4 linked regions of the Homo sapiens genome follow. The protein of the gene in region 4 purifies or fractionates together with the protein of the main gene of each other region. This does not show direct contact. Each region holds a gene or a part of one and is shown on either strand. Other genes may lie near its edges. The genes, in order: FRMD5, TRIM13, SLC47A1 and FAM234B.

Evidence for each region.
Region 1: the proteins of FAM234B (region 4) and FRMD5 purify together in Homo sapiens (affinity purification with mass spectrometry; 3 studies listed by BioGRID and IntAct, with this or other methods). This does not show direct contact.
Region 2: the proteins of FAM234B (region 4) and TRIM13 purify together in Homo sapiens (affinity purification with mass spectrometry; 2 studies listed by BioGRID and IntAct, with this or other methods). This does not show direct contact.
Region 3: the proteins of FAM234B (region 4) and SLC47A1 purify together in Homo sapiens (affinity purification with mass spectrometry; 2 studies listed by BioGRID and IntAct, with this or other methods). This does not show direct contact.

What each region holds. Positions count from the first base shown.
Region 1 is NC_000015.10:44,192,239-44,199,425, forward strand, and holds the start of FRMD5 (FERM domain-containing protein 5), read right to left. Parts: upstream 3,034-7,187; 5' UTR 2,817-3,033; coding exon 2,715-2,816; intron 2,209-2,714; exon of another isoform or gene 1,989-2,208; intron 1-1,988. UniProt on the Homo sapiens protein: May be involved in regulation of cell migration. May regulate cell-matrix interactions via its interaction with ITGB5 and modifying ITGB5 cytoplasmic tail interactions such as with FERMT2 and TLN1.
Region 2 is NC_000013.11:50,006,946-50,014,212, forward strand, and holds part of TRIM13 (E3 ubiquitin-protein ligase TRIM13), read left to right. Parts: intron 1-4,989; coding exon of another isoform or gene 4,990-4,995; coding exon 4,996-6,219; 3' UTR 6,220-7,267. UniProt on the Homo sapiens protein: Endoplasmic reticulum (ER) membrane anchored E3 ligase involved in the retrotranslocation and turnover of membrane and secretory proteins from the ER through a set of processes named ER-associated degradation (ERAD).
Region 3 is NC_000017.11:19,529,120-19,536,966, reverse strand, and holds the start of SLC47A1 (multidrug and toxin extrusion protein 1), read right to left. Parts: upstream 3,114-7,847; 5' UTR 3,028-3,113; coding exon 2,893-3,027; intron 1-2,892.
Region 4 is NC_000012.12:13,061,320-13,068,586, reverse strand, and holds part of FAM234B (protein FAM234B), read right to left. Parts: intron 7,013-7,267; coding exon 6,824-7,012; intron 5,743-6,823; coding exon 5,612-5,742; intron 1,948-5,611; coding exon 1,800-1,947; intron 1,433-1,799; coding exon 1,291-1,432; intron 284-1,290; coding exon 140-283; intron 1-139.

The sequences.
Region 1 (7,187 bases), on a different chromosome or scaffold from region 4:
ATTATGAAAGGATAGACAAATACTTTGACAGAATTTCTTATAACTGAAATTTACCAAATGGAACTATCATGACTCCAACCCAGTGATACATTTCTGATTCTGTAATATCCTAAGTAGTCTCTGATTATGCTAAGGCAGTAAAATCATTCTAAAATAGATACTTTATTTAAACAAAAATATGGCATACAACACTTTAAGGAAAATGAGTTCAAATTATCACCATAAAATATACAGTGCTACAATGCCTAAAATGTTGGGAATATTGCTTAACCTAATAAGAAGTTCACAGATCCTTTCCATACTGATTTAAAAGATCCTATGCCCAGTATTTAACAAATAAGCACATGCACATATACACACACACTCACTACAGAAATGCATGAAGGGAAAAGCTGATAAGAAAAGCTCAATTTCTAAATGTTCAAAAAAGCTACATGCAGAAAATGTTAATTTCATATAAGATACTGTCTTTTTGCTACATTTCCTCACATGGGTAAAAACAAAAGCAATTCGCCAAAGTGATGCCAAAGAATGACAACATTACATATACTTAACAATCCCTGTGTTCTTTAGATTCCATGCAAAAATCACAATGCACAATCATTAACATGTCTAGACAGTGGACACTTACTACAGTGTGGCCATATTACACCAAGCTTAATTTTTTAGGTGGCCTAGATATTTTATAAAATTAAATTGTAATAATGTAAAATGAGAGCAGTAGGAAAATAAGTACAGCTATAGTGGGATATAGCAAGCACAAATCCAATAAGTCCTATTTAACTCAAAAATATTTTTTTTCTAAATGGTAATAAAAACTACCCACAATTATAATACCAATCAAGCAACCTCAAAGGTTCCACTAACTGGGAAAAAAATAACTATTTGCCTCACTGCAATACTTTAAAACCACAAGGTTAACAATCATTTCTAGCGAAATGGTGATGTGAATTGTGTTTTATTTGTATTCTACACCTTGGCAAAAGTTAATGACCTGCCTCGGAAATTATTTCACATACCCCAAAAGTATTCTTAGGACTTATAAAGTCTAAATCTCACACTCCCCTTGATATGCTATTGGATAAATGCTTTAAATTTTAAAACAAAAGGATAAAGACTTTTAAAAAGCTCTAGACAATATACTCAAATGGTGAAGATATCAACTCAATGTATTCTCATACCCCAGCAAAACAAAAAAAGCAAAAAAAAACTGGACATGGCACAATGATACAATAGGAACAAAAAGTAGTATTCCACTCATTCAGCAAGGAAATAATACAGAGCATCTCTCTATCATATTCAACTACAAAAATCCTTTCACTTGATGGCTAGCATCTTTATGACTGCTTAGTCTGTATTTAAGTAGCCTTAAAAAGAGATTTTGTGCTCTTTCTCTACCCTCATGGATCTTTGGCAGCAGTCAGCACTTATGCCCAGAGCTGGTTTCGAGGGGAGGGAGAAAAGGGAAAGTGAGGAGAAGGCTGAACTGAGCACGGAGTCAGCAGAGACCAGCTGCTCTCATACACTACCCAGTGTCTTTCTCACACACCGCTATTTTCCGCGATTGAGCACTGTCAGCAAAAATAAATAAATAAGGAGGCGGGGGGCAAGAAGACACTGAGGGTAGGACCCAGGCCGACAGTTTTTGTCTGTCACATCTGAGCCAGAAGCCTCCTCCTGTTTTCCTGCTGCAAAGGCAAAGGATCAGGTGAGACCCCTCTGGGTCCAGCTCAATTAGCTTCTCCACAAAGAGCAGCTTCCGGCGATGAGCGCAGGATCCTCCTGGCTGATGAACTAAACACGGGAGCATTGTCAATGTTTTCAATCTCTGACTTTTTCATAAGGGAGGAGAGAGGGCTGTGACTGCATTCCCGGGAAAGACTACTACTCCTGACGTGCACACAGCAGTAGCGAAGGAACATGAGCAAGAGGTTGTAAAAATCCCTTCAAAAATACCAGGTTCTGAAAGAAATGCTGTTGAGCATTACCGTATTGTTGGCGTTTTTCCTAAGTCGCCGATTCTTCCTGGCCACTTCCAAGCCCCAAATCGCTGGGACTTGTTGCTAAATCTTTACCTCACGTCCCCTAGAACCGCCCAACACAATAAAATTTGGGGATCAAAAGGCGGGAGGGGGCCTAAATCTCTAAAACCCAGAGGACTGGGCTTCCTTCAATAGGCCACTCCGCATGGGCTGCGCGTTCAGTTCTACCTTCTGAAAGCTCTGACTCACAAATGGTGGGGGGAGGAATTATGACATAAACCATTATCCTTCCAACCCAAGAAAGATAAGAAAAGCCAGCCATACGTCCTTGCCCGGGCAGAGAGCCAAAGCCTGCGCCCCCGACGGGGCGGCCGGGCTAGGAGCCTACCGCCCTACCCGCCTCCCTCCGGGCGCCCCGGAAAGGTGCACCTTACTCGGGCGGGCTCGAGGAACCAGGACGGGGCGCCCTCACCCAGGGAGAGCAGGGTAGGACTTAGGGGTGTGGGACGCGGAGACTCGCCCCGCGGCGGCGGTGACACACCGGGTGCCAGGGCTCCGGCAGGGGCTCCGGTGAAGACGCCCTGCACTAGGGCGGTCCGCCGCAACCAGGAACGGACAAAGCACGGCGCTGGGGCTGGGGCGACCCCTGGGCGGCGGCCGCCGCCGGCCAAGTTGACCAGACTTGGGGGACAAGGGGGTCCCGCGGGCGGGGCGGGGCGGCGCGGCGCTGACCTGGATGGTGCAGGTGTACTCGCTGTCGTCCAGCAGCCGCACGGTGCAGCTGTACTCGCGCTCCAGGCTCCTGCTGCTGCCGCTCATCAACCTGCTCAGCATCTTCCCGCCCGCCCGCCCGGGAGCGACGCGGCGGCGCTGCGGACCCTGGACCAGGCGTCCCTCAGCCCGGCAGCTCCGCACCGACCCCAGGCACCTGCACCATCACCCCGGCCCCGTCGCTGCCGTTGCCTCCTGCTGGCCTCGTTCCTCCTCCTTATCCTCCTCCTTCCCTCAGCCGCCACCGCCTCCCCCCAGCCCAGATCAAGCGCCGGGCTCTGTCTCCTCGGCGCCCCAGTGCCCGTGCCCAGCTCGCGGGGCGGGGCCTCAACTGGAGGGGGCCAATGGGGGTCAGCGCGGCGGAACCGAGTGGCAGACCGAAAAGCCAATCGAGATAGAGTACTGGGATGATGGGCGGGATAAAGAAGCAATCACAGAAAAGCAGTCGGACCTAGTCAAGCCGGAGCAGCCCTCTAGCGTCCCAAACGAGGGGTTCCTCTCCGCCCCGTGGTTCCTATGGATGCTGTTTCCCCTCCCCCGGGCCAGGTGTGAGCACCCAACTGGATTGATGTCTGCCGCCTGAAATACACTTGATCTGCGTTTCCGAAGCCAAGCCTCGCACCCTGCAACACCGCGGTTCCCGCCCTCTTGGGAGCCGGAGCGAGGAGGCGGCAGGGTGCTGGATCACAGTCCCTGCACCTGCAGAATGCGGATACCTCTCGCTCCAGATAGGGCGACTGCCCCCGACCTGTGCTGTACCCTAAGTTGGCCCGTCTGGCCTCTGTGCTCCAGCCCTCTTATTTTGGGAAACAGGAGCTACTTAAATAAAAGCTAAAGGGACCTCAGAGGTTCTGAAGTACCCAGGTTTAATCCCCTAAAAAACCCTCCACTCTAACACCCTTTGCCTCCTTTTTATTTCAGAAGACAAAAGGAGACTGCTCCTTCAGCTGGTAGGGAGCAGAGGAAGCAATGAATCTTCTCCTTGCACTTTTAGAACTGGAAATTATGTCTTCAGACTTTCTCAATAGAACAACATAGTATGTCAGGAGGTATACATCACAAAGAATTGTCTCCTTCTCTTTGTCACCCCAAATTTACAGACTTCAAGGTTTTTTACCAGAACTTCAATAAGAGATATTCTCCCTCAAAGATTTTTGATGTGAGGAAATGTTATAAAATAATTATGTCGGCCGGGCGCAGTGGCTCAAGCCTGTAATCCCAGCACTTTGGGAGGCCGAGGCGGGCGGATCACCTGATGTCAGGAGTTCGAAACCAGCCTGACCAACATGGTGAATCCCCGTCTCTACTAAAAATACAAAAAAATTAGCCGTGCATGGTAGCACGCACCTGTAATCCCAGCTACTCGGGAGGCTGAGGCAGGAGAATCGCTTGAACCCAGGAGGCAGAGGTTGCAGTGAACCAAGATCACGGCCATTGCACTCCAGCCTGGGGGACAAGAGCAAGCCACCGTCTCAAAAAAAAAAAATAATCGTGTCAACATAGAACATTAATGCTGTAATAAATATATTAATTTAAAATAATGAAATAGGCATAATTTCCTATTACTTTCATTTGCACTGTTCTTGTTTATAGGTATAATGTGTAACAAAAATGAAACTCTACATTAGCCTAGAAAACTATCCCGCCTTTAAAGTATGCTTCTTCCCTAGTGTCTTTGGATTCCAATATTTTCCCCAATTTTTTTTTTTTTTTTTGCATGGGGAGATTCATTCTCTTTCATTCTCTCTCTCTCTCTCTCTTTCTCTCTCTCTCTCTCTCTCTCTTCCTCCCCCTCTCCCTCCCCCTTTTTCTTTCTATCACCTTAGTAACCTGGACTGCTCTTAATTGGTTGCATTCTCCTTTGTGGCATTTAATAGCCATAGGAGCAGGATTCTCTTTTCAATGCAATTTGGATGGAGTTAGTTATGAGTCTAGAACTAGTAAGTCAAGTGTTCCAGGCATAAAACCAGGCATGCGCTCCACTACTTTGTAGCTTCAGCAGGTAGTCTGATGCCTGAAACATAATAGGTATTCAATAAGTGTTGAACTGAATACAAAAATTAGCCGGGTGTGGTGGCATGCGCCCGTGGTCCCAGCTACTGGGGAGGCTGAGGCAGGAGAATCGCTGGAACCCGGGAGGTAGAGATTGCAGTGAGCTGAGATTGTGCCACTGCACTCCAGCCTGGGCAACAGAGCAAGACTCGGTCTAAAAAAAAAAAAATTGATGAACTGAAGTAAATGGAATTGACAGGTGTTCTACAGCACTTAAATCCCAGAGGAAGAAGACCTGTGAAGAAACTCAAAATTTCAGGAAGATCTTGGAGACAAGTAAAATTATTAATATGCCAAAGTGATATTCTACAAAGCTCAGCTTTGTTATGTAGCTGTAAGAAGATAATGAAATATTTCAGGCTGGGCGCAGTGGCTCACACCTGTAATCCCAGTACTTTAGGAGGCCGAGGTGGGTGGATCACGAGGTCAGGAGTTCAAGACCAGCCTGGCCATCATGGTGAAACCCTGTCTCTACTGAAAATACAAAAATGAGCCGGGCATGGTGGCATGTGTCTGTAGTCTCAGCTACTCAGGAGGCTGAGGCAGGAGATTTGCTTGAACCTGGGAGGCGAAGGTTGCAGTGAGCTGAGATTGGCCACTGCACTCCAGCCTGGGAGACAGCGAGACTCCATCTCAAAAAAAAAAAAAAAAAAAAGAAAGAAAGGAAAAAAAATTCAAACTGAAAGAGCTTTTGTTGAAGGCAAAAGTTACTGTTTGTTATAGAATCAACAAGAGCAAGAAAAAATGTCCAAGCTAGAGGAAGTCCATAAGTGTGATGGTAGGAAAGTGTTTTTAACAGGTTATCCAAATAAGCAGCTGTTAGAATGAAAAGGCAAAGCACTATGAATCCAGAAAAGCTCTAAGGAACTGAATGCAGTCTTTTTTCGAAGTATGGCCATAGTTGCAATCAACAGAGGTGAGACTGTATTTCCTATGTCAATGTGTTAAGTAGAATCCTTGCTCAGTCTGAGAAAATCATGTCTGAGGCTGGGTGCAGTGGCTCATGCCTATAATCCCAACATTTGGGAAGCCAAGGCAGGCAGATCGCTTGAGCTCAGGATTTCAAGACCCACCTAGGCAACATGGTGAAACCCCATAGCTACAATAATAATAATAATAATAATACAAAGATTAGCTGGGTGTGGTGGCACACACCTGTAGTCCCAGCTGCTGGGGAGGCTGAGGTGGGAGGATTGCTTGAGCCTAGGGGGAGGGGAAGGTTGCTGTGAGCCAAGATCACACCACTGCACTCCAGCCTGGGCAACAGAGCCAGATCCTGTCTCAAAAAAAAAAAAAAAAAGGAATTAAAAAAAATCACATCTGCTTAGATGCTCACCTCACCGAAAGACCAGTTAGATATTCATTCATGCTTAGGTGTAATATCCAGAGAGAACTTCAAACTCTCCCTTCTTCTCTGATACAAAACACTTTGTGAGGAATACAGAGAATGAAAAAATAATGGAAGAAAAGCAAGAATCTAGATGTATGTCTCCACAAAAAAGCTCATGAGAAGAAGCATAAGGAGAACTAGAAAGGAAGGGCTCATATAAAACCAAACTGAATTTTGGGAGACTGGGCAGAAGAATCAATTGAGCCAGGAGCTATGACTGCATCACTGCACTCCAGCCTGGACAACAGAGCAAGACCTTGTCTCCAAATAAAATAAAAAGTAAAACCAAACAGAAATATTTTGTTTATCTTTGTTTTCCTCAAATCTATTAACTAGGATGCCCAGAATGGAAAGGGCTTATTTAATAAAAGGCCTTATTTGCCCTTGAGAACCAGCGTGCCATAGCTTTCATGTGTCTTTAAGTATAAAGGAGGCCACATTTAAAAATAAGAATCCAAATTATAATGGCTCTGAACCCCCACCTTCCAAATTATCAGAATATCAGCCGTCTTTTGAATTTCTTTTCCTTCTCTACTATGAGGGAGTCCCCAGGGGAGGTACTATCCCCCACGTATGCCTGAAAAAACTAAACAAAGCATTTCGTGTCTCTGCTTCAGATATTCTATACCCTGCTGTTCTGGGACACTGGTCTCTCTCTTTAGCCAATGCAACCTTCACCATTTCTTTAGATTTTGGCAGGAAGGAGTACTGCCCTCTCTTCACCAAGACATGACAAACACAGGCCCTTCCCATCAAAGTTTCCCCCAACACAGCTAAGACCAAGCTATAACTCCTAACAATATTTAGGAAAAAAAGAATAATCTGAAGTGTAACTTGGACGTATGACATAGCTACTTTCAAAGCCTCATGGACTATGGATTAGATACAGGCCTGGCCTTACTGTCAGGCTTCCATTCTGGTTCATGTGGCTGAAGATAGCTTCCCCTCTCCAGCAAGAGTTCCCCTGACTACGTCTTAGGCATTTACTCCCA
Region 2 (7,267 bases), on a different chromosome or scaffold from region 4:
TGAGGTGGGCGGATCACCCGAGGTCAGGAGGTTGAGACCAGCCTGGGCAACATGGTGAAACCCTGTCTCCAGCAAAAAATACAAAAGTTAGCTGGGCATGGTGGTGGGCGCCTGTAGTTCCCAGCTACTCAGGAGGCTGAGGCAGAGGAACCGCTTGAACCCGGGAGGCAGAGGTTGCAGTGAGCCGAGATTGTGCCACTGCACTCCAGCCTGGGTGACGAAGTGAGACTCTGTCTCAAAAAAAAAAAAACCCAAAAAAATAGGGCCCAGCGTGGTGGCTCACGCCTATAATCCCAGCACTTTGGGAGGCTGAGGCAGGTGGATCATGAGGTCAGGAGTTCAAGACCAGCCTGTCCAAGATGGTGAAACCCCGTGTCTATTAAAAATACAACAAAATTAGCCGGGCGTGGTGGCCGGTGCCTGTAATCCCAGCTACTCGGGAGGCTGAGGCAGGAGAATTGCTTGAACCTGGGCAGCAGAGATTGCAGTGAGCCGAGATTGCACCACTGCACCCCAGCCTGGGCAACAGTGAGACTCTGTCTCAAAAAAAAAAAAAAAACGCCAGGCACGGTGGCTCACCCCTGTAATCCCAGCAGTTTGGGAGGCGGGTGGATTGCCTGGGGTCAGGAGTTTGAGACCAGCTTGGCCAACATGGTGAAACCCCGTTTCTACTAAAAATACAAAAATTAGCTGGGCGTGGTGGCAGGTGCCTGTAAATCCCAGCTACTCTGGAGGCTGAGGCAGGAGAATTGCTTGAACCCGGGAGGCGGAGGTTGCAGTGAGCCAAGATCACACCATTGCACTCCAGCCTGGGTGACAAGAGTGAGACTTAGTCTCAAAAAAAAAAAAAAAAGCCATAAACTAATTAACCCTGCAAGCTCAGCTTGTCCTTTAAATACTGTTTACCTTCTAGATATAGTCCAGTCATGTATGGCTGTTGAAATTACTGTTAAAAAAGTATTCGCTTTTTTTTTTTTGAGACAGAGTATTGCTGTGTTGCCCAGGCTGGAGTGCAGTGGCGCTGTCTCGGCTAACTGCAAGCTCTGCCTCCTGGGGTCACACCATTCTCCTGCCTCAGCCTCCCAAGTAGCTGGAACTACAGGTGCCTGCCACCACGCCCAGCTAATTTTTTTGTATTTTTAGTAGAGACGGGGTTTTACTGTGTTAGCCAGGATGGTCTTGATCTCCTGACCTCGTGATCCGCCTGCCTCGGCCTCCCAAAGTGCTGGGATTACAGGCATGAGCCACCCGTGCCCGGCCAAGTATTCACTTTTTATCATAGATGGCCTACCGATTAAGTCATATGTTATTGTTGATAATGTGATATTGTTGATAATGTGATATGTGCATATATCCCTGAGTAAACTGAATGTAGAAATATGTAGTACTCTTTGGTTTTACAACTATAGAGATGAATGTATATTTAAAATAAACTTGTGGCCTGATGCAGTGGCTCACACCTGTGATCTCAGTGCTTTGCGAGGCTGAGGCAGGAGGATTGCTTGAGGCCAGCTAGTAAGACCTGGTCTCTACAAAAAAAAAAGTAGCCAGGCGTGGTGGTGCATGCCTGTAGTCTTAGCTACTTAGGAATCTGAGGCAGGAGGATTGCTTGAGCCCAGAAGTTTGAGGCTGCAGTAAGCTATAATTAGGCCACTGTAGTCCAGCCTGGACAACAGAGCAAGACCCTGTCTCTCAAAATAAGAATTAAAAATAATAAACCTGCATTGAGAAATGGTATTGCCTGTATTAGGGATCTCAAATATTTTGGTCTTAGGACACTTTTACACTCTTAAAAATTGAGAATCCTGGCCTGTAATCTCAGTGTTTTGGCAGTCTGAGGTGGGAGGATCACTTGAGCCCAGCAATTTGAGACTAGCCTAGGCAATATGGTGAGACCTCATCTCTACAAAAAAAAACTACAAAGAAAAAAAAAATTAGCTGAGTGTGATGGTGCGTGCCTGTAGTCCCAGCTACTTGGAGGTTGAGGCAGGAGGATGGCTTGAGTCCAAGAGGCAGAAGTTGCAGGGGACTGAGATTGCACTGCTGTACTCCAGCCTGGGTGAAAAAGCTGTCTCAAAAAAAAAAAAAAAAAAAAAAAGAGAATCCCAAGAACTTTATGTTTGTACTGTCGATATTTACTCTATTAGAAATTAAAACAATTTTTAAAAAATACTCACGTAAAATAACAATGATAAACCCATTACAAGTTAACAAATAATTTAGGAAAATAACTATTTTCCAAAACAAAATTAAGAGAAGCATGGCATTGCAATAGAGGCCTGTAATGAATGGCTATTTAATAGAAGACAGCTGGAGTCTTTTGTCTGCTTCTGTATTTAACCTGTTGGAATATATTATTTTGGTTGAAATAAACGAAGAAGGCTGGGTGTGGTGGCTCATGCCTGTAATTCCAGCACTTTGGGAGGTGGAGGTGGGACGATTGCCTGAGGGCTGGATTTCTAGACCTGCCTGGGCAACATAGTGAGACCCTGTCTATAAAAAAATCCACGGCCAGGCGCGGTGGCTCACGCCTGTAATCCCAGCACTTTGGGAGGCTGAGGCGGATGGATCACCTGAGGTCAGGAGTTCAAGACCAGCCTGGCCAACGTGGTGAAACCCCGTTTCTACTAAAAATACAAAAATTACCTGCGTGTGGTGGTATGTGCCTGTAGGCCCAGCTACTTGGGAGGCTGAGGCAGGAGAATCACTTGAACTCGGGAGGTGGAGGTTGCAGTGAGCCAAGATAGCACCACTGCACTCCAGCCTGGGTGACAGAGTCAGACTCCGTCTCAAAAAAAAAAAAAAAAAAAAAACAACAACAACAAAAAACACTAAAACTAAAAATTAGCAAGGCATGGTGGTGCACACCTGCAGTCTGTAGTTACTTGGGAGGATCTCACTTGAGCCCAGTATTTCAAGGCTGCAGTGAGCTATGATCATGCCAGTGCACTCCAGCTTGGGTGACAGAGTGAGACACCCCATCTCTTAAGAAAAAAAGAAAAGAAAAGGAAATACACAAAAATCTAGGCTTACACAGATATGTAGTTGGTAAAGGAAGGAATATTATTTAAATAGCCTTTTCAGGTAATTTAATCTTTTTTTTTTTTTTTTTTTTTTTCCTGAGGCAAGGTCTCTCTCTGTTGCCCAGGCTGGAGTGCAGTGGTGCTATCTCGGCTCACTGCAGCCTCTGCCTCCTGGGCTCAAGGGATTCTCATACCTCAGCCTCCCGAGTAGTTGGGACTACAGGCGCATGCCACCATGGCTGGCTAATTTTTTTGGTATTTTTTTTGTAGAGGTGGAGTTTTGCTATGTTGCCCGTACTGGTCGTGAACTCCTGAGGTCAAGCGGTCCACTCTCTGCAGCCTTCCAGAGTGTTAGGATTACAGGCGTGAGCCACTGCTCCCAGCCTGAATCTTCTTGTGATACTATACAAAAACTCAGCAAGTGCTAGTTTCTTTGTTGGAGTATGGAATCTGAAATTGTTTATGAACCTGTTGGTCTTTCGTGAACTTCAAATGGATCTTTTACCCATGCCTGATTTGTAACATGCATTAGTGACTTGAAATAGTATTCACTGTGTTTTGCAGATCTCCAAATATTGACACATTTCATTATACAGTACTCCTTTCCCCTCAGAAAATCCTCACATTCATTAATATCACTGCCCATCTCATCATAAAAGTCTTTAATTAATGGGAAGCTGTCAGGCTCATAAATATCAAATGTTTTCCAAAATTCTAATTTTTACATAAAACCCAGCCTTTTCATTAGCAAGAGATACTGTCAATTGTTTTCTTTGAAGTAGCAAGCTCATTTTTTTTCCCCAGAAAATGTCAGGTAGCTAAGTCTGAATAGCCATAGTTTATCATTTGTTCTTTCAGAAGGTAAAAATGGTGTTCCATGAAAAAAAGCAGCTGGTTTAACTTGCCGCTCTTCACTTAAGTGCTTTTTCTCCAGACAACATCTGCCGGTATGCAGAAGTGCTTTGTGCGTACTGCCTATTTTGTCACGCAATATATTAAAAAACTGTACACAGGCTCAAGACTTAATAAAATGAATAATTTTTACTGCTGCATCAAGAACATTCTTAAGTGAAACCGGTACTCCAACCCCAATTTGGGTGGTGATGAAGAATACAATTCAGCGCTTCTTACAGCTTTGCTCGATCCCTCCTAAGGCTTCAGCAGTGTCTACACACCATTGCTTTTACACCATTGGTACAAATGTTGACATGGTGCAAAAAGCAAGTAACATCTTAGTGTCATTACGAAAATAGTTTTGATCTCACAGATGCCCTGAAAGAGGGACATCCAGGTTTCTGCCCACCACATTGTGAAAATTGATGATTCTAGATAATACAAAATGGCTTCTGTTACTGTTCTGGTGGTTTAAAAACAACAAAAAACCTCATTTAGTTCTCTACCTAGAAGAGTGAATTGCAACTCTCATCTTGTGCTTTTACCTGTGATTTTAAAAATTGTAATCTTGCCTTTGAAACAAAAATATGCCAATTCATAATAAAGTCTACATGAGAGTACATGTTTGGATTTATATTTCTGTGCTTCTTTCTTTTATATAACATACCATTTCATATTTGTGGGCCCAGAGTAAAGAGCTCATTCTGTTACAGACACTGAATAGCCTTGTTTTTGTCAGTAGTCAGCTCTGTTTTAAAACAATTGCTTGGGTCCTGCTGGCTCAACTTGCAGTTGTCCTAGTCCTGAGTCTTGTCTTAGCCAAAGACTGTTGTTGGAAAGCCCACACAAAGGCCTTGTGTATAGGATGCCCTACTATTAAAGGAGCATGTTCTAGTCTCAGTGGATTAAATTTGCTTTGGTGTGCATTCCCTTACCAAATTTCTCACTACTTTGTTTGGCTGGTTATTTCAGTGAAAAATCATTTTAACGTGAAGGCAGATTTCTTCTAATTATTACATAGTCCTAGTGGTGACGGTTATTGGAGTAAAATAATTTTTTTTTTTTCTGGTAGGATGTGATGGAGCTGCTTGAAGAAGATCTCACATGCCCTATTTGTTGTAGTCTGTTTGATGATCCACGGGTTTTGCCTTGCTCCCACAACTTCTGCAAAAAATGCTTAGAAGGTATCTTAGAAGGGAGTGTGCGGAATTCCTTGTGGAGACCAGCTCCATTCAAGTGTCCTACATGCCGTAAGGAAACTTCAGCTACTGGAATTAATAGCCTGCAGGTTAATTACTCCCTGAAGGGTATTGTGGAAAAGTATAACAAGATCAAGATCTCTCCCAAAATGCCAGTATGCAAAGGACACTTGGGGCAGCCTCTCAACATTTTCTGCCTGACTGATATGCAGCTGATTTGTGGGATCTGTGCTACTCGTGGGGAGCACACCAAACATGTCTTCTGTTCTATTGAAGATGCCTATGCTCAGGAAAGGGATGCCTTTGAGTCCCTCTTCCAGAGCTTTGAGACCTGGCGTCGGGGAGATGCTCTTTCTCGCTTGGATACCTTGGAAACTAGTAAGAGGAAATCCCTACAGTTACTGACTAAAGATTCAGATAAAGTGAAGGAATTTTTTGAGAAGTTACAACACACACTGGATCAAAAGAAGAATGAAATTCTGTCTGACTTTGAGACCATGAAACTTGCTGTTATGCAAGCATATGACCCAGAGATCAACAAACTCAACACCATCTTGCAGGAGCAACGGATGGCCTTTAACATTGCTGAGGCTTTCAAAGATGTGTCAGAACCCATTGTATTTCTGCAACAGATGCAGGAGTTTAGAGAGAAAATCAAAGTAATCAAGGAAACTCCTTTACCTCCCTCTAATTTGCCTGCAAGCCCTTTAATGAAGAACTTTGATACCAGTCAGTGGGAAGACATAAAACTAGTCGATGTGGATAAACTTTCTTTGCCTCAAGACACTGGCACATTCATTAGCAAGATTCCCTGGAGCTTTTATAAGTTATTTTTGCTAATCCTTCTGCTTGGCCTTGTCATTGTCTTTGGTCCTACCATGTTCCTAGAATGGTCATTATTTGATGACCTGGCAACTTGGAAAGGCTGTCTTTCAAACTTCAGTTCCTATCTGACTAAAACAGCCGATTTCATAGAACAATCAGTTTTTTACTGGGAACAGGTGACAGATGGGTTTTTCATTTTCAATGAAAGATTCAAGAATTTTACTTTGGTGGTACTGAACAATGTGGCAGAATTTGTGTGCAAATATAAACTATTATAAAATCTGTTTCAAGTATGCAGTTTTCTTTTGTTAGAAATTGTTAGAGAATAGAGAGTGGTAATTCAGATTTGGTCAACGATTCTAGTCACATATTTTCCTCCAAAAGTATTCCTTCCAAAAATAATCTATACATGTTCAAATTAGGTAGCATAAAGATAAAAGTGAAATTTAGTAGTATAGGCCTGAACCTTTTTTTGTTTAAAAGAGTGCTTTTGAAATAAGCATCCACCCCAAATGTTGGTTGTATTTATGCTGTGATAAAAATAGGTGAGAGATCATATGATCTAATATTGTATTGATGGAAGTATAGGTAGTATAGTAGTGATTGTTCTTCAAGCATGCAGTAAAGATCACTTTTTTTTTTTTTTTTTTTTTTGAGATGGAGTCTTGCTCTGTCGCCCAGGCTGGAGTGCAGTGATGCAATCTTGGCTCACTGCAGCCTCTACCTCCCAGGTTCAAGTGATTATCCTGCCTTAGCCTCCTGAGTAGCTGGGATTACAGGCGCGTGCCACCACGCCCAGCTAATTTTTTGTATTTTTAGTTGAGACAGGGTTTCACTGTCCCTTAAGACCATCCTGTTAGCCAAGATGGTCTTGATCTCCTGACCTCGTGATCCGCCTGCCTCGGCCTCCCAAAGTGCTGGGATTACAGGTGTGAGCCACCGTGCCCAGCCAAAGACTGCTCTTAAAGCACCTTTTTGACAGTGAACATGGTCTAAAAAAGGGAAGATATTGTAGAAGATTTCACACACACACGCGTGTGTGGGAGACAACTAAAGGTATTGAAGGTACTAATTAATTAGATTTCCAAAATTTTCTACAGAGAGTTAATTATCACCAAAATGTGAATGGTACATACAAAACCTGGCATTTTCTTGTGATAAGTTTACATTTTTAGGAGAGTGGAGCTTTCAATCTGCCCTTTTCTCCTTTGTTTTTGTAGTTTTCACCAAAGATGATCAACTAGAAATGTTAAGTGGCTATGCAAGCAAAAGCATAGATAGGTTAAAAAAAAGGATCAGCTGGCTGGGCAGGGTGGCTCATGTCTA
Region 3 (7,847 bases), on a different chromosome or scaffold from region 4:
CATCTTTTGAGAAATAAGCACCATTCGGCTCACATTTCCATTGTGTTATGGGTTACTCTCTTTACAAAGCCCTCATTTAAAGCCCAGTGAGACCTCAAGGGTCAGGGTTAACTTGAGAGGTCTGGAAGGGAGATGGCAAATGAGAGAGAAAATTACAGAGAGGAGAGCCAGACAGGGCATCTTCCTCATGTTATGTTGGACACTTGGAGAAGAAAGTATTGGACAATGAGCATGGGAAAAGAAGGGGGTGGTCTCTCCTTATCCCATGCCCTTTAGTAAACAGAAAACTTTATAGCAGATGGGATTAGAGATGGGAGACAGACCCAGGCCGGTCCACATACACTTCATGAGAGACTAAGCAGGTAGCAAAACTCTACAATCACATTTTCACAAAGCAGAGACACACACACACAAAGGACTAGAAGGAAAGCTCCCAAATTACCTCTCAGCGGTGAGATTTCAGAGGGTTTTTTCCTATTGTTGGTCTTGGTTTTCTATTTTTTTCTACAGTAAATATGCATGACATTTGTAATAAACACAATGGTATACATATATGTACATACAAAGAGAAAAGGTGAGGTCCCCAGCATGTCAGTCTAGTGCTCATCCCTGGAGACCTGGAGAGGTCCCCCACATCAAGGGGATCAGGCTACTGGGAGGGCTGGATTTCAGAAACCTGCCCTGTTATTATTATTATTATTATTATTATTATTGCTATACTATTAAAGCAATAACAGGCTGGGCAAGGTGGCTTATGCTTATAATCCCAGCTCTTGGGAGGCCGAGGCAGGAGGATTGCTTTAGCCCAGGAATTCAAGCAATGGGCAACACAGGGAGACCCTATCTCTAACCCAAAATACAAAAATTAGCCAGGCATGGTGGTGTGTGCCTGTAATCTCCGCTACTCCAGAAGTTGAGGCTGCAGTGAGCTGTGATCACACCACTGCACTCCAGCCTGGCCGACAGATCAAGACCCTGTCTCAAAAAATAATAATAATAATAAAACAATAATAGCCTTAGAAAGCCCCTTCTCACAGCAGCTCTGTGAGGGAGTGTTGAACCAAGACATGATTATTATCTCCATTTTACAAATGAATATGCAGAGACCAGAAGAGGTTAGGAGGCTGTTTCAATCTGCACAGCTGCTTCCTGACTTACTTTCGGAGGTCAAAGCAGGGCACGCAGCCCCAGGTCTTGAGATTCCAAATCATGAGGTGTTTTTTTGCCCAGGCTGGAGTGCAATGGCGCGATCTGGGCTCACTGCAACCTCCGCCTCCCGGGTTCAAGCGGTTCTCCTGCCTCAGCCTCCCAAGTAGCTGGAATTACAGGCGCCTGCCACCATGCCCAGCTAATTTTTATTTTTTATTTTTTGTATTTTTAGTATAGACGGGGTTTCACCAGGTTGGCCAGGATGGTCTCAATCTCTTGACCTCGTGATCCGCCTGCCTTGGCCTCCCAAAGTGCTGGGATTACAGACGTGAGCCACCACGCCCAGCCATGAGGTGTTTTTGTTTTGTTTTGTTTTGTTTTTTGAGACCAAGTCTTACTCTGTTGTTCAGGCTGGAGTGCAGTGGCACCATCCTGGCTCACTGTAACCTCCACTTCCCAGGTTCAAGCGATTCTCGTGCCTCAGCCTCTGGAGTAGCTGGCACTACAGGCGCCCGCCACCACGTCTGGCTAATTTTTGTATTTTTAGTAGAGACGGAGTTTCACCATATTGGCCAGGCTGGTCTCGAACTCCTGACCTCAAGTGATCCATCTGCCTCAGCCTCCCAAAGTGCTGGGATTACAGGCGTGAACCACCGCGCCCAGCCCCAAATCATGAGTTCTTTCTGGTCTGTGAGAAAGCATGGCTGATGGATCTTATTCCATGGCTTTGACCTCGGCATTACCCTTGCTGTCCTGCACACCACAGCGGGTGCCACAATATCCCACAAACTACCGAGCCCCCACTCCAGAGGCACAGCGGCCCCCCTCAGCCCGCGCAGGTGCAGAATGTGGGCCTCAAAGTCAAAAGCTTATTCACGCCTTAAGTGCATACCAGTTGCTTCTTGTGCCGCGTCCTACCCTCTCGGTTTGAAAACCACCCAAGCTGGCAGGAGAACGTGGATAGGATTGTGTTTTTGTGGTTTTTAAAACCACATTATTTTTAGGAGACAAGGCAGAAACAGCCCTAACCTAATGATTAAAAAGAAAAGAATCCCACAGATAAGAACACCTCGACCCCACAAAGAACCACATTAAAACCCCTTTTTTCTTTCACATACATAATTACTGGCGGGGAGGGGGTGGTACAGGATGCCTCTGGTTTCCTCGGTAGAGGTTGACTGAATTCTGAAGAAATCATTTCGCAGCTCTGAGTCCACGACAGACCACGCACCCCCTCCTCCGTGCCTCGGGATTATTTAGATCGCAGAGCTCCCGAACTTTTGACCGCTACTTTTCAAAGAAACAAGTTCCCTTGTGTTTTGAAGTTCAGGCAACTTGCGTTTTATTGGCCGGAATCAGCTCCCAGAGAAGGCACCCCCGGATGCAAATGCAGCCTGGACCTGGTAGAGCCCCGTTAGGGGCAAAGGTCCCAGCTCTCCGGTGTCTCCTGGCGCAGGAGGCTGGAGCCGCCGGCCTCTCCGAGCCAACATGCGCCCGGGCGCGTACCAGCCGTTCCCGCAGTGCCCCGCGGGGCCCCCAGTCGGGTGGTGCGGAGCGGAAAGCGGCCGGGACGCAGGCAGAGGAGCTGGGGTGCCCGCCCGGCTCCTGGCACGATGCTCCCCGGAGCCCGCCGGCGGACAGCTCGCTCGGTCCCCAAAGCCCGCCAAAGTCACCCGCGGAGGCAGAAATCACCAGGTCCCCAGCCCGCCGGTACCGGCCTGCCACTGAGGCCACCTTACTCACCGCGGGGCCAGCCAGGACCAAGAGCGCCCGCAGCTCTTCTCGGAAGGCGGACAGCCGCAAGCAGCGCGACCCACGGACCTCAAGGGTGGCCTCCGGGCCTCCGCGCACTGGCGCGGGCTCCTCAGGAGCTTCCATGTGACTCGCGCGCTGCGGCCGGGTAGCGCGGAGGCCGGCAGTGGGTACCGCGGAGGCCGGCAGTGAGTACCGCGCAGGCCGGCAGTGGGTACCGCGCAGTGCAGCCTGCTCTGCAGTCCCCGCCCCGGCCGCCCGCCCAGAGCCCGCCCCGCGCCTGGCGCCCGGGGGCCCGACTGAGCGCGCAGCCAGGCAGCCTGCGACCTTGGGCGCGCCCCTTGCACCTCTCTCTGCACCACTGCGGACGCCTGCGGGTCTTGCAAAGACCAAGGAACTCCTGCACTTGGAAGGCAAAGTTTGAAAAAGCTCTGTAAACTAACGGAACGCGCTCCGGGGGCTGGGTCCTCCACGTCTCGGACGCCAGGACTCACCCCGGCTCTCCACCTCCGCTGGGGGTTTCAGGTTCTGAATGACCTGGCGTGGAAGGACCCAGAGGCCTCGAGCCGTGACTCGGTTAGCACCCCGCGGGGTGTGTGGGGTTGGGCGCATTTGCTGTGCAGATTGAGTTGGGTACACCCTTTGATGCTGGTTAGGGTGTTGCATACTCCTCTCCTCTCATCAGTTGTTCCATTAGAGAACTTAGAATCTACCAGGATAGAGCAACATGCTCCCATTTGCCAAGTAGCACAGTTTGTGCCAGCTGGTCGTGTTGGAAGTTTATCCATCAAGCCTGCTGTGGGAGTACGAGAGGCTGCGGCCCAGAAGGGCAGGAGCAGCGCGCTTTCCTCCCAGAGCCTCAGCTTCCTCATCTGCAAACGTGAAAGAACACTCGTCGCCAGCTGTGAAGACTGGGGTTGCCTGGGCGGAGGACCGGAGTCAGTGCCACCTGCCCTCAGCCTGGCACCAGCCGTTACCTAATAAGTGTCAGTTACCAGGACAAGATTGATTTCTCTAATAGTCAAAATTCCTTCCGTTGTAATGATCCAATGTAAGTAGAGAAAATGGAAAACAAATTTTTTGGCTCACATAATCAGGAAGTTTGGATTCAGGGATTTGAAAACAAGGTCATTAGGCCAGGCGCGGTGGCTCACGCCTGTAATCCCAGCACTTTGGGAGGCCTAGGCGGGCGGATCACAAGGTCAAGAGATCGAGACCATCCTGGCCAACATGGTGAAACACCGTCTGTACCGAAAATTAGCTGTGCATGGTGGCGCGCGCCATAATCCCAGCTACTAGGGAGGCTGAGGCAGGAGAATTGCTTGAACCCGGGAGGCAGAGGTTGCAGTGAGCCGAGATCTCGCCACTGCACTCCAGCCTGGTGGCAGAGGGAGACTCCACTCAAAAAAAAAAAAAAAACAAAACCAGATCATTCTTGTTGTCCCTCTTCCCATCTCTGTCCCTCTCCTCCCTTCTCCTCGCCCCTTGGGATTCTTTCCGTAGTTTCTCTTCCTCCTCTGCCGGCAGCCTTTCTCTTCCTGTGCAAGTGACAGTGGTGGCCTCTGATACCCTCGTTCCTATCTTTCCCGTCTGTTAAACCAGAAAGTAAGGCCCTCCCCTCCTCTCTTCTGGTTCCAAACTAACAAACAAAAAACTGGGAGAAAATCTGGTTGGCCCTGCTTAGGTTTCTTGCCCACCTCTGGAACAATCGCCCTGGGTGGGAAAATAGGGTCTGATGTTTGGCTGGCCCTGGACCATGCACCCAGCTTTGAACCTACAGGGTTAGGGTTAGGTGCCCTGTGACTGGTCTCGTCCCACAAGGACTGTACATATGGAGTAGCGCAGTTTCCCAAAAGAACTGAGAGTGTCAACAGACAAATACCCGAGGATATTCACTAGATCTCTGATCACTGCTGTTTTTTGATAATTTTCTGGAAGTCCTGACTGATGTAATAAGACAGGAAATGGAAATGTAATGTATAATGTTAGGAAAGAAAAGGCAAAGGGATTACTCACAGTAGAAATTGACAGACCGGGCCAGGCACAGTGGCTCATGCCTATAATCCCAACACTTTGGAAGGCCGAGGTGGGAGGATCACTGGAACCCAGGAGTTTTGAGACCAGCCTGGGCAACACAGTGAGACCCCATCTCTTAAAAAAAATCCACACAACCCAAAGAAATAAAATATGAACAAAAGCTAATAGAATTGATAAAGGGGTTTAATAAAGTTGCTACATAGAAGTTCTTCAACAAGTCATATCAGTCCTTTATATTGGTAATAACATATATGAAAATACTAAAAGAAATCTTTCACAATAGCAACAAAAAACAAAAGGTCCTCGTGATACAGAGCATAACTCCTCACTCCTTAAAGGTGGATTGTACACAGTGACTTCCTTCCAAAAAGTAGCACAGGAAAATTAATTTTCAATTAATATATTAGGTTTTAGTCCACTACTGTGTATTCCATTATTTTAAAATTTAATAGAATGATTCTAAAAGCAATTGATAGTGTAAACAGGAAAAGATATAACAAAAACTCTGAAAAAGAAAAGTAAGGAGGAAAGAAGTAGCTCTATTGGCTGGTAAATAGCTTTTAAAACAACGTGTGGTTGGCTGAGCACATTGTACAGGTGAGTAGCCCACACCTGTAGCCCCAGCACTTTGGGAGGCTGAGGTGACAGGATCGACTGAGCCCCGCAGTTTGAGGCTGCAGTGAGCTATGATTGCACTACAGCACTCCAGCCTGGGCAGCAGAGTGAGACCCTATCTCAATAAAAAACAAAAAACAAAACAATTAAAAGAACAAAGAACCCTGTTACTTGGAAAGTGTTAGGATTTTGATTGACATTGCATTATATCTGCAGATTTATTCAGAAAGAATGCACCTCGTTAAAATTCTGTCTTCTATTTCAATCATATCCCTAGTCTAATCAGTACTCATCTAGGGAATGGGAGACTCACTGGACTAGGGATATGATGAATTTGTTATTGATGCTTGATAAATAGTCATAAGTATGTTCATATACGGTTCTTAACTTGCTGAAATATATTATTAAAAGCATGTATTAAAATTGAATTTTATCAGGGTTTTTTTTTTTTCTTTTCGGGGGGACAGGGTCTCTCTCTGTCGCCTGGACTGGAATGCAATGGTTTGATCTCGGCTCAAAGCAGCTTCGACCTCCCTGGCTCAAGCAATTCTCCCACCTTAGCCTCCTGAAGAGCTGGGACTACAGGCATGTGCCACCACACCCGGCTAATTTTGTTTTCTTGTTCCTTTTTTTTTTTTTTTTTTTTTTTGAGACAGAGTTTCACTCTTGTTGTCCAGGCTGGAGTGCAATTGTGCGATCTTGGCTCACCGCAACCTCTGCCTCCTGGGTTCAAGCAACTCACCTGCCTCAGCCTCCCGAGTAGCTGGGATTACAGGCATGTGCCACCACACCCGACTAATTTTGAATTTTTTTTTTTTTAGTAGAGTTGGGGTTTCTCCTTGTTGGTCAGGCTGGTCTCAACCTCAGGTAATCCACCTGCCTTGGCCTCCCAAAGTGCTGGGATTACAGGCATGAGGCACCATGCCCAGCCTATTTTCATATTTTTTATAGAGACAAAGAGGTCTCACTATATTGCCTAGGCTGGTCTCAAACTCCTGAGCTCAAAGTGATCCTCCTGCCTTGGCCTCCAAGAGTGCTGGGATTACAGGCATGAGCCACTGTGCTCTATATATATATATATATATTTAGTATTAATTGAAATAATCAAATTTTTCTTCTCTTTTCGGTTGTTAGTGTAAGTTCATTGTAGATTTCCTAATGTTTAGCTGTCACTGATTCCTGGAATAAACTTCCCTTATTCATAATAGTATACTATAACAGGTATATAGTGGTAGATTTATTGCTAATATTATATTCAGGATTTTTATATTTATTTATTTTTATACAGACAGGGGTCTCACTATGTTGCCCAGGCTGGTCTTGAAATCCTAGGCTCAAGCAGTCCTCCTGCCTTGGCCTCCCAAAGTGCTGGGATTACAGGCGTGAGCTGCTGCGCCTGGCTTCCGTGAATCTTTAGGCTCTGTAATTATTCAAATACCATAAGAATGATCTGTTTCTTGAAGGTTTGAAGGCCACTCACCTAGAGGACCATCTGATGCCTTTATAGAAGGGGTATTTTATTTAAAAATAAGAAAAAAAATAAAAGGTTTTCTGTTTATTTAGAAGTTGCTGGTCTATTCAGGGTTTTGTTTAACCTCTTCTTGAATTAATTTTGGTCATTCATGATAAGTGTTTATTGATTGCTGCTGTAACAAATTACCACAAATTTAATAGCTTATGATAACACAAAGTTACTATTTAACAGAGGTCAGAAGCCTGAAATGGGTTCCGTGAGGCTGAAATCAAGGTGTCAGCAGAGCTGCGTTCTTGCTAGGGCTCAGGAAGAATCCATTCCCTTGCCTGTTCCTGCTTCTAGATGCCGCCTCCCTCTTCCTCCATCTCCAAAGCACATCACTGCAGCCTCTGTTCTTTCATCACGTCTCCTTTTTCCAGCTTTTACTCTCTTGTCTTCCTCTCAGAAAAAGAGATTCCATTAGGCCCACCCGATAACCCAGGATAACCTTTGCATCTTAAGATCCTTGTAGTAATCACATCTCCAAGTCCTTTTGCCATGCAAGGTTATGTATTCACAGGTTTCAGTAGATGGATGGGGACATCTTTGGGAGGCCTTATTCAGCATCTCATACTCACCATGTTCTGACCACGTCTGTATCTTCCCTGTAATTTTAAATTCTGATTAGCTTTTCATTTTCTAGTGGGTACTTTCTCAGGATATTGTGGCGTGTGCTTTCTGAATGTTTGCGGTCATGATATTTTACACATTCCCATGCTTCTAGCGTTATACATTACAGGTGAAAACTCCAATCCACTCCAATTCTCTCTCTCTCTCTCTT
Region 4 (7,267 bases):
AACAGGAAAACTAAGAACTCTCCCTCCCTTCTCTTGCACTGGCCCCAGATATAAGAATTGCAAGCAATTGTCCTGGACAATTTTTAAACATGGGAAAGTGGATCAAAACAGCAAACACAAGAAGGAACACAATGCAAACCTGCGCAGGCCTTGAAGTCTCAATGCCCAGTAAGGTGTCAGATTTTGCCCCCGAAGCAGCACAAGGCTTTGTCTGGTTGTAATCAGAAGGTTGCTGCAGTTGGAATCTGGTGCCTTCACCATCTGGAGTAGTTCAACACCATCACTGGGTTAAATAAGACCCCAACGGTTAGTCTCTGGCTTGGATGAGATTTCTGAGCCATTTACTTTGGCTTTTTCTCTCAGTATACGTACACCTGTACACACTCTTGTATTCATGCCCCACCATTATCTCATCAAGTGGGATGTACTGTTGTTTCAGTTGAATCTCATTTTCTTGACCTTAGAAACCAAGGATCCCCAGAAAATTCCATACAAGTTCAAAAGGAACTCACAGGAAAAGTGCTACAGTGCAATATCTCTCACACTGGATACTCTGGGAAAGGCAACAGAGCCAAGGATAATCACAGGGAAGGCAGACAGAGATCTGGACAGGAGGCCAGAGGTTGCCAATGAGCTTGGGCAGCAGCCCATGGCATACATTTCACTGAATTAGTTCTTGCTCAGTGCCACTGGGACCATTCTACTTCATACCTGTCAAAGTCACCAAAACACCATGATACTGCCTAAGAAAATGCTAGAAAATGATTTGGAACTTCTGGTAGGAAAGAATGAAACAATTATTAGCCAGGCTTGGGGTTAAATGGGTAAAATCCCCTGCATGTGACAAACTACATGCTTCTAGTTAGGAAATAAATAAAAATAAAAAATAAGATTTCATGGACACTATCCTTGCTTCTGTCAAAATGATGCTTCAACTAAGAGAAAAATACAGAAAAGAGTAGGTCAGATCCTTCAGCACAGTTTCACAAACAGTTAGATAAGTCTATCTCCCTCCCTACTCTGACTCAGAGCCCTAAGTATCCTTCCTTGCATCCTACCTGAGGAGTGATCACATGTGGTCACCAACACATAGATATCAACGCATTATGTTACCAAGAGAAGAAAATTTCTAACTCATGTTAACCAGATCAGAAGATGGTAAATTAAGATAAGCACTGTTTCCCCTAAACCTCTACCCACATATTCACCAGCCCAACCAAACTTAGAGACTCAAAGGCATGTGAGTTCACAAGAGATCTCACTGTGACCAAGGACAGACGTCTGCCCTACCTGTAAACATCAATGAGCTCAGACAGGTTGATGGATCTTCGCTTTTCCCATTCTGGCTCTTCTATCTGCAGAGAAGGTGGTGAGCTGTCTCGATTTTGGGCCTGAACAAAAATGTCCCGCAGTGCGACAGCTTGTATATTTCCTAGCACCACAGAAGAACCAACACTGAGAAGTTGAATTTAACAGAACTGTCCCATGGTGAGGATCTGAGCAAGAGACACAGAGCCTGACCAGATGGGTCTAACAGAGCCCGCCCAGACTGGACAACACGGAACAAGTGGGGAGGTGATTAAGTGGGTGCTGGACAAGAGTCTTCCCTTCAGAGGAGGCAGCAAGGGAAGGCAGAGTTAATAGCCTGTGATCGGTGGGGGACAGTAAGAGGCCCCTGCATTAGAAGGCTATGGGAAGGCTGGTGTCAGGAGTTCCTGAGCTTTCACCCTGTCTCACAAGGAAGGCCTCATCACAAATGCCAGTGGGGAACAGGAGCAAAAACTAGCCTTGCTTCTTACCAAAGCCAAACAGGATGTAGACAGCCCCATTTGTGGTGATGTAAACCTGAGGACCAATCAGATTCCCAACTCCAACGATGTTGTACTTCACAGGTCGACCCACTGGATTTCCGGTCCGGCCAGACACCAGCAGAAAGCACAGATCTGGCTGAGGAAGTAAGAGAGGGGGGTGGAGTCAATAGAAGCCCTATCGTTTGCTAATGAAATGGCTTCTCCAGACAGTCACTGCCTCCTCATAAGCCACGGGCTCAGAAACACTCCCCCAAGTTGGAAAGCACAAAGCCAAACCTGCTTCGCTTTATTTCCCTGCAAGTAAGCAAGTGAAGCAAATGTCCCATTGCCTCACTAGAGCCAGGCAAAGGGCATCTTCAAAGCACCTCAGACAGCTACTCTGAAGCAGAATTGTTGCTTGCTGAATAGTCTCCTGAGGCACAGAATTCTAGCCTACAGCTTAACATAGGATGGCTGGCCCCTGGGTCTTTACTTCAATACCAGAAATCCCCAGTAATATTTGGTTCCAGCTAGAGTTAATCGAGGCAGTGCTCTCCCATCAGAACACCAGATGTCGGGCCTGGACACCATCAACTTTATTCTCAAAGAGAGAACAGCAAACTTTTTCTGTGAAGGGTCAAATAGTATATATTTTAGCCTTTGCCAGCTAGATGATCTCTGTAGCAACTATTCTACTCTGCTGTTCTTGTGTGAAAGCAGTCATAAATAACACATAAATGAATGGGTGTGAGGATGTTCCAATAAAGCTCTATTTATAAAAACAAGTAGTGGGCCAAATTTAACCTACAAGCCACAGTTGCCAACTTCAGCTCTAGAGGATTTCTTTTGGGGTAGAGTCACCAGTTAAGAAATATGAGGATTTTACTGATATCTTGACTTCAGTAAAGCTTTTGACAAAGTTTATCATCATGAACTCTATGGACAAGATAAAGAAATGTGGTTTGCCATGTACCAGGAAAAGGTACTTATGGGATCAATACTAGCCTAGAGGGAGGTTTTTAGAGGAATGTCATAGCACTGTGCTATTGCCCCATTCCTATTAAACATTCTTATCAAAGACTTGAAAGAATAGAATTCAAGTTTATCACAAAGCTGAGAGGGATAGCTAATATGGCATATGACAAACTCAAAATTCAAAAAAACCTTAGGCTGGAAGATGAGTCAAAATCTGCCACAAAAAAATAAACTGGTCTATTAATAATTAATCATTAAAAGATATAGGTACTTTAGCTGATTACAAACAGAAAGCAAATCTTAGAAAAAATATTATTATCTTTGGCTGCAAAAACAGAAATACAGAGTCTACATCAAAATAAGAAACAATTCCCTTAGGTTGATATATTAATTATACTACAAATAAAATGCTGTTTTTAGATATAAGTACCACATTTTAAAAGAGATTTGGACATACTAGAATGCAAAGGGAAAGAAATCAAGAAAAAGAGGGGTTTGGACTTCCTGGTTGCATGAGGAACAGTACGAGAAATGGGGATATTTAGTCCTGAGTAGCAAGCTTAGAGGGACTAGGCTAATGGTTAAAGGGCTTTCCTATAGAAAGGGGATTAGACTCATTCACAGTAGCTCTATGGGAATGAAGCTGGAACAATGAGTGGAAGCTATGAGAAAGCAGATTTCTTTCTGCTTAGGACAGAATTTTCTGGAGCTGGCCCAAAAATGAAATGGATCGCCTCACAAATTAGTGTTATTCCCATCAGCCTGAGTGCACCAAGAGAGTAGGGGTGCCAACATGTCTGTAATGCTGAACCAGAGATCATAGCATGGTGTGAGAAAGTTAACCAAATGGTCTTCAAGGTCCCTTCCCACTAATGTTCTAGACCTTATCAGTTCCTGTAATCAAAAACCAGGTCCAGTTCTCCAAGCCCACTTCACTCTAAACCCAGATCAATGAACGCAATCACTATAAGTCACAGACTTAGGTTTCCTTCCTTGTGAAGAGAGAGTCTTCCATCTCAGGAGCTTATACAGGTTCCTGGGGTCCCTTGTTGCTGGCAGAGAGGTCAAAAGAGGTCAGTACAAGGATGAAGCTGCTGCGCTATATACCTAGTGCCTCTACAAGGTTTTCCTAGAACTGTCTACCACTTTTCAAGCAGAACTGAGACTATGCCCTAGCTGTACCCTATTGTGAAAACAAGTAAATTCTGTAGGGCAAGATGGGCAATACACTGAGTAGAGACCAACACAAAGGGCACAGAGTAAGAGTGGGCAAGAAGCCACTTCCTCCAGTGGAGACCTCCTTACTATGGAGGGTCCCCAAGGGCCTGAGCCACTATCCTGCCAACCACCACCAGCTAATAAGCGGCCAGACGGGATGGTTAGACCAAGATTTCTAAATTCAATCACGACTTAAAAACTTGTTCAATGGCTTGCCGTGTCTCCCCATATGTTCCCTTCAAAGAATTGCTCCCTGATGGAAGTAATAATTCAAATTTTCCCTAGTCCCCAATCTCTCTATTCACAATGGCTAGGATAAAAAAGATTACATGAATAATTCCTGAATCCTTGGTTCGGGTCCACTTTGAGACCAACTGGCTAGCTGAAGAAAACGAACATAAAGTACCCTTAAAGCTTAAAACCCTTAAAACTAAGTAGGCTTCAGAAATTTAGCTCATTCTGGATCTTGCCTTTATCTTGCAAATGTGAGGGAGAGTTTAGTGTGCTAGAGCAGTGCTCCTCAAAACTCATGACTGATGGGGCACTCTTAAGTTTGGGGGACTCTTGGCAGAAAGCCACAAAATCTTAACAGATTTCATTCCATTCTACATAATTTCACCTCCAGAATTTACAACTCTACTCCATATATGCAATACAAAGATCACAACAGCAAACACAAGGTCTATTAAAATTAAAATAGGTTATCAAATGAGACAAAATTAGCCATATCCACATTTTTCCACAAACATTCTTTGCCGATTGTTTGACTCTTTTGTGCACAAGCATTTCCTTGGCAGACACACTAGGAAGTCTGAGAAAAAGTCTTAGAGAAACTTTGACAAAAGCTCTGAAAAACGCTTCCAGAATAAAAACTTAAAATTGAGATTATTCTGTTCATTAATTTATTCCTTCCTGTGATTTGGGGGAAAGACTACTCTTATTTTATCTGTGTGCAGAGTAACCAGTACACTGAAGTTCCTGCAAATCATAATTTAGGACCATAATTCAAGGGCCACTGTCCTGAATCAAAGTCTGCCTTGTCACAGCCTAGATTATGACACTCCTTTCTTTGGTCATTGTTGTTATTATTGCTTGACTTAGATTTTTTCCTATGTATCTTTTATGAACTTTGTATCAGCCTGTTCTGTTGTTTTATAATTGACATAAAATGTACATATATATAATACAGTAAAACTAAAAATACATATACACAGCAAAAATTAGGCACTACTCTAGGCACTTTAAATATGTTAGCTGTAATTTTCATAACAATGATGTAAGTAGATATAACATGCCTTTTTTACATATGAAGAAACCAGAGCTTGGACAGGCTCCACGGCTTGCCCAAGGCCTCAAAGATATAAAGTGGTAGAGGTGGAATTCGCATACAGACCTAACTAACTCTAAAGCTCCACTACACCCCAGTCCATGGAGCCATGAGGCTGCCAGAGAAAATGGGTTCATAATGGTCAAGTATTCACTTAACCTCACAAAGAGAATTTACTTAAACCTAAACCCTTGTAAAAAGAACATTTCAAGCAGCATTTATAATGTAACACTAGGAGCTGAGACAACTAAAATAGAAGCAGTCCCTATAAGAAACAAAAAACATTTAATAGAGATCATACCTGCAATTCCCCAATGGCCAGAACCACAAGGTCTCGAACACCGTCTTCATCCAAGTCTGGCAGTACCACAACTGGGGCAGCCAAGGTACCGTTGGACAAGTAGTTTGGGTTTAAAGTCCAAATGGCTTTCCCTGAGGAAGGACACATAGGCTGGTCACTATGACAACTTCTTGCCTTTGGAAAAGGCAGATGCCATGTTCCCAGGCCAGAAAAGAAAGACGCAAGGGGCTGAACAACAGACAGCAACTCCTACCTACTTATTGCCTTTCGTTTTTGTCTTACTGAGGAGGAGGAAGCAGGCAGTGTGATCCGAATCCTAAAGTATCTGGCAAACAAATCCATGCAATGATTTCTCACCTAGATTTTTTTAGATAAAATGGAGGTGCTAAATCCTTTCCAACAAAGAAGGGCTCACTTGCCTGGGGTGAGGGAACTGTCTGTTAGAGATTATAACAACTATTAAGGAACCCCCAGGGGCAGCCGACCAGACCACTCTGCTTCCTTCCCCCACACGGTCACATAAGTAAGCACCACAGCATCATAGGAAGTTTTCCAGATGGCTTCAGTTCTACAGTTAACTCAAATCCCAGTTTTTTTCACTCAGAAGCACCCCGCGACCAAACTCCAACCTCTAAACCTGGGAAGGATGTTATTTATTCCGCTCCACGTGAGCACACGGCCCAGCAGTACTAAGCCTATGGGCCATATACTTAGGATTCTATAAGAGCCTTCAGGACATGTTATTCTTTTTCATTCCCTTTTGTCATGTATGTCTGAATGCAGTAAGAAGCTAAAAGGCCAGTCAACAAGCCTCAACAAACCTTTATTTCTTCACTGACGTATTTTTTTAAGTAGTTAATGCCAAATTTACACATGGCCCCCATGTATACCAAATATGAAGAATTAAAGTTCAGTCGTCTTTTGTACAAAGAACAGAGTTGGGAGACTATTTACACACCAAAGGCCTCAGGGTAGTTTCTGTTTGGGTAATTCAGTTCCAGCCCCATCCTATCACCAAACAGGTTGAACCATGGATCTGTTTACTCAATCTGCCCAAACCTTTTCTCTCATTTCTCTTAATAACCATATTCCAGATCAGTAAATCAGATACTCCACCACGTGAGAGTCAAAAGGTCCCCTACCCAACAGATTATTCTAATCCAAAAGTATGGCTCGTAGGAGCAAAGTTCTTTTGTGGTAAATGGTATTTACCTGACGTTGCATTGAATGCGCTGAGCATCTTGTGTGTCCCTGTCACAAGGCAGATGGTTTCAGCCAAGCTTCCTGGCATCAGCTCCAAACATGTGATATCTCGAGCCTCCTCAGGGAGAAGACTAGACCACAGTGTGCTGCCATTCATCCCCGAAAGGCATACAAGATTAGCAGCTGGTCTTGAGACACCTAAAAGCACACAAGAGAGATAAAAAAAGGAAAGCAGGCAAAGGAGATAAGAGGCAGAGATGAACAAGAGGCCAGAAAACTGCAAGTGGATGGTGGTAAGGCAGCAACCACACTTGTGTATTCAGCTCCCTCTCACACTTCTGGCAGCAAGATGTGAACACAGAGTGCCTGTCATCTTTGCTGAACACGCTTCTCATGTAAGACAAGAGCTGTGGCCTCCTCTACACTGTCGAATGCATCTCCACTTCTGCACCT